2 linked regions of the Homo sapiens genome follow. The protein of the gene in region 2 purifies or fractionates together with the protein of the main gene of each other region. This does not show direct contact. Each region holds a gene or a part of one and is shown on either strand. Other genes may lie near its edges.

Region 1 (3,656 bases), on a different chromosome or scaffold from region 2:
CTTTGTTGATTGTCTTTGATAATTTCAGTAGGTAGAGGAGATATTTGGATTTGTTATTATATTCTAATCTTTCTTTAAAGTTTCTTCACAACAATGTTTTCATCATCTGCTACTCTAGATTGTTCATGCAGAAGATCATGCTTTGCTTCAGGAAGATTATTCTGAGTCAATGAGGGTGATTTAATTTCCAAGCCTGTTGTCTGTTACCTTAGGCTTTCAGTAGCTAAACTTTACCAGCTCATGTGCCTTTCCTTTCTGTTCAGTAATCCCTGTCTAGCCTAGCCCCCAGCTCCAAATATCTGTGAAAGTTGTTGGGTCGAAAGCTCTGCAGAGTCACTCGTGCAGAGTGACTTTGTATTCCTGCTCAAAGTTTTTGTTGTTGTTTGTTTGTTTGTTTGTTTGTTTGTTTGTTTTTGAGACGGAGTCTCGCTCTATCGCCCAGGCTGGAGTGCAGTGGTGCGATCTGGTCTCACTGCAAGCTCCGCCTCCCAGGTTCATGCCATTCTGCTGCCTCAGCCTCCCGAGTAGCTGGGACTACAGACGCCCGCTACAACGCCCGGCTAGTTTTTTTTGTATTTTTAGTAGAGATGGGGGTTTCACCATGTTAGCCAGGATGGTCTCGATCTTCTGACCTCGTGATCCACCCGCCTCGGCTTCCCAAAGTGCTAGGATTACAGGCGTGAGCCACCGCGCCCGGCCTCCTGCTCAAAGTTTTAAGTTTATTTTCTTGTGTCTGCCCAACACAGAATCAGGAAACCCAGGCCCAACGGCAGGTGGATGCAAGAAGAAATGTTCCCCAAAACGACCCAGTGACAGTGGTGGTACTGAAAGCAACAGCGCCATTTAAATACGAGTCCCCAGAAAATGGGAAAAGCACAATGTTTCATGCTACAGTGGCCAGTAAGACTCAATATTTCCATGTGAAAGTCTTCGACATCAACTTGAAAGAGAAATTTGTAAGGAAGAAGGTCATTACCATATCTGATTACTCTGAATGTAAAGGAGTAATGGAAATAAAGGAAGCATCATCTGTGTCTGACTTTAATCAAAATTTTGAGGTCCCAAACAGAATTATCGAAATAGCAAATAAAACTCCCAAGATCAGTCAACTTTACAAGCAAGCATCTGGAACAATGGTGTATGGGTTGTTTATGTTACAAAAGGTAAACCCTTAATTTTGTTTTAATTTTCTCTACCATTACCTGGAAATAAATGTCTTAATTTGCCAGACTTACTGTCTGAATATTGGAACACAAGAATTTATATTGACTAGAGATAGTGATGAAGTTGTCCCACAAAATAGGAAATAGGACTAAGTGACCTATTAACTTTCTTACGCCAAAATAAATGTAGGGACTTTGAAAAAAAGTTAGTAAGAAATATTGGCAGTAATGATCTGTTGTCAGCCACAATGAACTAGGACAATACAGGGTCCAAATCAACGGGAGCAAGCTAATAACATCATCTCTTTCAGCTCCATCCCAATGAGCACTGATAATTTTACTGTGAGTTTTGATAAATTTATTTTAAGTAATGAATTGTGCTACCAAGGTTGAATTCTGGTTGTGACATAATTTTGGAGTAATAAGTGGATTGGCTGGTATGCTCATAAATGCAAATACATTCAACAGCTATCCATACAATCTAAACATTTGTGCTTAGATCAGTTGCCCTTCTATCTTATTTATTTATTCATTTATTTATGAAGATAGCATTGAACAACTGAGAAATATTGAATTCCATGATACTTAAAGGATAAGGCAATCTCTTCATACTATTTACAAAAAAAAAATAATTCCAAGGCACAGAGTTTTATTGATATGTCCATGTCCAAATTCAAGATGCTAGTTAGGATAATGCATTCCATCCCTTTCTCCACTCTAAAACATTACACATTTCTATGAACTCAACTAACATTTTATATGATTGACTGCTTTATAACCCTACATACATGTCTTTCAATATAGCCCCTTAAATTTACCTCCACATTTTCTCACACTCTCTTTAAGAGATCTTGCTTATAAATGCAATTACAGAATTGATGAGTAATAGCTTAAGTGTGTGAAACACTACAGAGTATGAATGGAGGGAGTTAGGTCAATGGGGACAAGATATTGGAAAAGAATAAGTAATGAGGAAGGCTGAGAAAGAATGAATGATTGTGTTATAGAAGATTTTTCCTTTAAAATTTCTCATAATCTGAAGTAACTCAGGAGTGGAAAACCAAATATTGTATGTTCTCACTTGTAAGGAGGAGCTAAGCTATGAGTACACAAAGGCATACAGAGTGATCTAATAAACTTTCAAGACTCAGAAGCGGGAGGCTGGGAGGGAGGTGAGGGATACAAAACTATATATTGGGTACAATGTACACTACTTGGGTAATGGCTGCCCTAAAATCTCAGAATTCACCGCCATATAATTAATCCATGTAACCCAAAACCATTTGTACCCCAAAAGCTATTGAAATTTTTAAAAATTAAAATAATAATAAAGTGAAATTCCTCATAATCTACTGAATGAATAATTGTAGAAAGCATACATTTGTTTTTCCACAGGACCATGAGCCAAGAAGTTCTATAGGAATTTTTGATTCCTCTATATCTAGGTGCTTTATTTACTCTCAGCTGATCTGAAGGTGGTAGCAGGAGAAAAAGAGGGAAATATTTATTGTTGTATAATTGCAGAAAGAAAAATACCTTAAGCAGGAAAAAAAAATGCTGGATAATAAAAGATGGACCCTGTGAGATGGCAGGCCAAGCCACATGTATGATCTGTACCTGTCATTCCTGTCGTGCATATTGCATTAACTTTGTCATGAGACTCTTTCTCATCTATATGATACTAACAATCCTCTCAGAAACAGGATGTTAATCTTCTTTTGCAGAAAAGCGTACACAAGAAGAACACAATTTATGAAATACAGGATAATACAGGATCCATGGATGTAGTGGGGAGTGGAAAATGGCACAATATCAAGTGTGAGAAAGGAGATAAACTTCGACTCTTCTGCCTTCAACTGAGAACAGTTGACCGCAAGCTGAAACTGGTGTGTGGAAGTCACAGCTTCATCAAGGTGGGAACTGGATAGAGGAGAATGAGTTTGCTAAAGAGGCAAATAATTTTGCTTAGGCTTTGGGAACACCAGGTTCCTCATGTATTACTCAGAGAGTCCAGCGAGTGGAAGGAGAACCTAAACAATGCCCTTGCATTTGTAACTGGAAGATTTTCAGAAGGATATTAAGGTAAAGGCATTCATACAGCTCTAGAAAGGATACAATACTAGTGTTAATTGATTTAAAGATGTGTCTAGCGGCAGGGAACATAGGGCTCAAGAGCAAGGGTTCTGAATAAGACAGATCTGATTTGAATCCTGGATTTAAGAAGCACTAGTTGGCTGATATTGGGGAAACAGTTTCATTGGTCCTCTAAAATAATGGAAGTCTCCACTTCATTGGGATGGTTTAAACATTCAGACAATGTATACATATTAATTATCTCACAACCTGGCACATCATAATAAACTGATCTGTGGTAGATAGTTTTATTTTTAGGAAGGTAAAAATTGGAGGGACTTTTAGGCAAAGGAAATGATACATGAAAATTCCAAAAGTGTGACATAGCGTAATGAGTTCTGTACAACTGAAATTCAGTAG
Region 2 (3,656 bases):
ATTTGATAATCAAGCCATATACAGCATCCACCTGCAGGCTGCACAGACGAGGAGCTGTGCCAGGTCTAGAAACTCGATTTGTATGAGTTTACTCAGGGGTAGGGAAGTAACACACAAAGACTAAATGCAAAGAGACTAGTGTATAAACCAGAATGCCACTCTATTAATTTGTAATGAGAATTATTTATTTTCCATAACAAAACTTTAAGAATATGCTATAACACACGCACGCACGCATACGCGCATGCACTACCCTCACCAAGAAGGCTCCTGGTAAGCATGGTATCAATGCCACGAAGTCCTGGAGAAACATTCCCTCTCCTAAGAATTGAGAACATCTAGAGCTGCTCCTTCATTTTACAAACAAGGAGATTGAGGCCCAGAGAGATTAAGTGACTAGTTCATGATACTTGTGCAATGAGGCAGTGGGGGACCTGGCACTGTTATTACAAGCATTTATTTGAATTCTGTAGTACCACTGCTGACACTAATTCTGTTCTTTCTGCAGAGAACAGAAAAAACGCAAGCAGCAGAGAACAGGAAAAGGAAATCGAAGAGGCAGAAAGAGACAACAAAACACAGAATTGAAGGTGGAGCCTCAGCCACAGATAGAAAAGGAAATAGTGGAGAAAGCACTGGCACCTATAGAGAAAAAAACTGAGCCACCTGGGAGCATAACCAAAGTATTTCCTTCAGTAGCCTCCCCGCAAAAAGTTGTGCCTGAGGAACACTTTTCTGAAATATGTCAAGAAAGTAACATATATCAGGAGAATTTTTCTGAGTACCAAGAAATAGCAGTACAAAACCATTCTTCTGAAACATGCCAACATGTGTCTGAACCTGAAGACCTCTCTCCTAAAATGTACCAAGAAATATCTGTACTTCAAGACAATTCTTCCAAAATATGCCAAGACATGAAGGAACCTGAAGACAACTCTCCTAACACATGCCAAGTAATATCTGTAATTCAAGACCATCCTTTCAAAATGTACCAAGATATGGCTAAACGAGAAGATCTGGCTCCTAAAATGTGCCAAGAAGCTGCTGTACCCAAAATCCTTCCTTGTCCAACATCTGAAGACACAGCTGATCTGGCAGGATGCTCTCTTCAAGCATATCCAAAACCAGATGTGCCTAAAGGCTATATTCTTGACACAGACCAAAATCCAGCAGAACCAGAGGAATACAATGAAACAGATCAAGGAATAGCTGAGACAGAAGGCCTTTTTCCTAAAATACAAGAAATAGCTGAGCCTAAAGACCTTTCTACAAAAACACACCAAGAATCAGCTGAACCTAAATACCTTCCTCATAAAACATGTAACGAAATTATTGTGCCTAAAGCCCCCTCTCATAAAACAATCCAAGAAACACCTCATTCTGAAGACTATTCAATTGAAATAAACCAAGAAACTCCTGGGTCTGAAAAATATTCACCTGAAACGTATCAAGAAATACCTGGGCTTGAAGAATATTCACCTGAAATATACCAAGAAACATCCCAGCTTGAAGAATATTCACCTGAAATATACCAAGAAACACCGGGGCCTGAAGACCTCTCTACTGAGACATATAAAAATAAGGATGTGCCTAAAGAATGCTTTCCAGAACCACACCAAGAAACAGGTGGGCCCCAAGGCCAGGATCCTAAAGCACACCAGGAAGATGCTAAAGATGCTTATACTTTTCCTCAAGGTAAGGGCTGTTTATAGCACCAAGGTAGGTACATCTCCCCCAGAGTAGTGATTTACAACTTTCTCTGACAATCCTGGGTATTCCCTGTTATTTCAATGGATACTGTGAATTTCATTGACTAGTTTTAAGTGAACAATATTTTCATGCAACCAACGTCTGTCTTGGCATATTTCAAAGAGTTAAAAAAATTGAAAATGCAAGCATGTACATTAAGTACTTATTCATACTATCCATCCATTATGAGATGCTATAGTCAGTGAAATGAACCCAATATAGGATGAATTATTGCAAAATATTTTTAAAAATTAAGTCTACATTAACAAGAAAGCTTGATGAATGAAGTTTTTCTAGGAAATTTAATTTGCCTGATAAATGGAAAGCAGGTAAATTCATAGTACGAAGTACTGAGGGAGATAAAAGCTGTAAAATATAATCCTGTTACTAGGGAATTCATTCTTGTAGGATTTATCAGGTTTACCAAAAACCCTTTCTATTTCAAGATTTGTTCCTGAAAAACTTTTTCCTAAGTATAGGAATTTGAAAATAATGCAACCTTTCTTTAATTTCACTTGCCTCAGAGACATAACTGAGAACTTCAGCTCTCTTTGTACAATACTGTAGACAGTATAAGAAATGGACTGAGTCTATCAGACCATAGTTATCCCCAGGAAACTGATTTCTAAAGAAATCCCTTTAGTAGTTTACTTGCTCTTTATCCTAAAAGATGAGTGCAACAAAAACATGGTGCTAGTTGGTTTCCAAGTAATACCAGTTTTGAAGAACTACTTTAAAGAAATACATTGCAGCAAAAGCAGGCATGTGAAGCAGTACGTGCACTGACAGGAGTACCCTGCTGGAGAAGCAGCTCTAACCAACACAGCGTCCTGATTCCTAACTGCTTCATTCTAAACCCAGCAAGGTCGATATGGTCAATTAATTAACGCTTATTTTATTTTTGGCTTTGTTTGACCAAATAAATGGGAATATCTATTTTTCCTGATTATAAAAGTAGTAAGTGTTCATTATAATAAAGCAATATGTAAGTGAATATCAAGTAAAGTAAAAGTCCCCTATAATACCATCTTCTATCTTCAGTTCCCAATGTTAAGGTTGTTTTGTTTCAACAAATGAGACAGTACCCATCCTATCCTGTAACTTGTTTTTGTTTTCATTTACAATATGTATTGCAGCCATCTTTATGATGTCTTTTGTAACAACTGCATAGTACTGTGCTATATGTATATTCAACCAGTCTCTATAAGGATGAACACTTAGGTTACTGCCAAGTTTTACTATTACAACAATGTTCAATGAACATCATTGGGAATAACATTTATTTAGTTAACATTTATCTGGTACTTTTCTATGTGCCAGACACCATATTAAATATTTTATGTGGTTTATTTTATTCAATGTTAAAAGCTCTACTGGATAAATAATACTCCCATTCTAAATATAAGGAAATGGAGGCACTGGAGGCTGAAGTTTGTCTGATTATTTCCTTTGAATCAACCCCTAGAAATCAAATTGTTGGGCCAAACGGTACCCAAATTTAAAGTTTGAATATACAGTCAGTCAGACTAGCCTCCAGAAATGTGGTAGCAATTCACACGAGACAGGTGCCTTTTCCCCACACCCTTGTCAGCACTGTACATTATGACATTTTAAAAATCCTTGTCTGTCTGCTAGGTTAAAAAATACACTTGATCGGCCGGGCGCGGTGGCTCACGCCTGTAATCCCAGCACGTTGGGAGGCCGAGGTGGGCGGATCACGAGGTCAGGAGATCGAGACCATTCTGGCTAACACGATGAAACCCCGTCTCTACTAAAATTACAAAAAATTAGCCGGGCGCGGTGGCGGGCGCCTGTAGTCCCAGCTACTCGGGAGGCTGAAGCAGGAGAATGGCGTGAACCCGGGAGGCGGAGCTTGCAGTGAGCAGAGATCGCGCCACTGCACTCCA

What was found.
Region 1: the proteins of HEMGN (region 2) and MNDA purify together in Homo sapiens (co-immunoprecipitation; one study listed by IntAct). This does not show direct contact.

The regions. Positions count from the first base shown.
Region 1 is NC_000001.11:158,844,841-158,848,496, forward strand, and holds part of MNDA (myeloid cell nuclear differentiation antigen), read left to right. Parts: intron 1-746; coding exon 747-1,163; intron 1,164-2,887; coding exon 2,888-3,076; intron 3,077-3,656. UniProt on the Homo sapiens protein: May act as a transcriptional activator/repressor in the myeloid lineage. Plays a role in the granulocyte/monocyte cell-specific response to interferon. Stimulates the DNA binding of the transcriptional repressor protein YY1.
Region 2 is NC_000009.12:97,928,074-97,931,729, reverse strand, and holds part of HEMGN (hemogen), read left to right. Parts: intron 1-508; coding exon 509-1,695; intron 1,696-3,656. UniProt on the Homo sapiens protein: Regulates the proliferation and differentiation of hematopoietic cells. Overexpression block the TPA-induced megakaryocytic differentiation in the K562 cell model. May also prevent cell apoptosis through the activation of the nuclear factor-kappa B (NF-kB).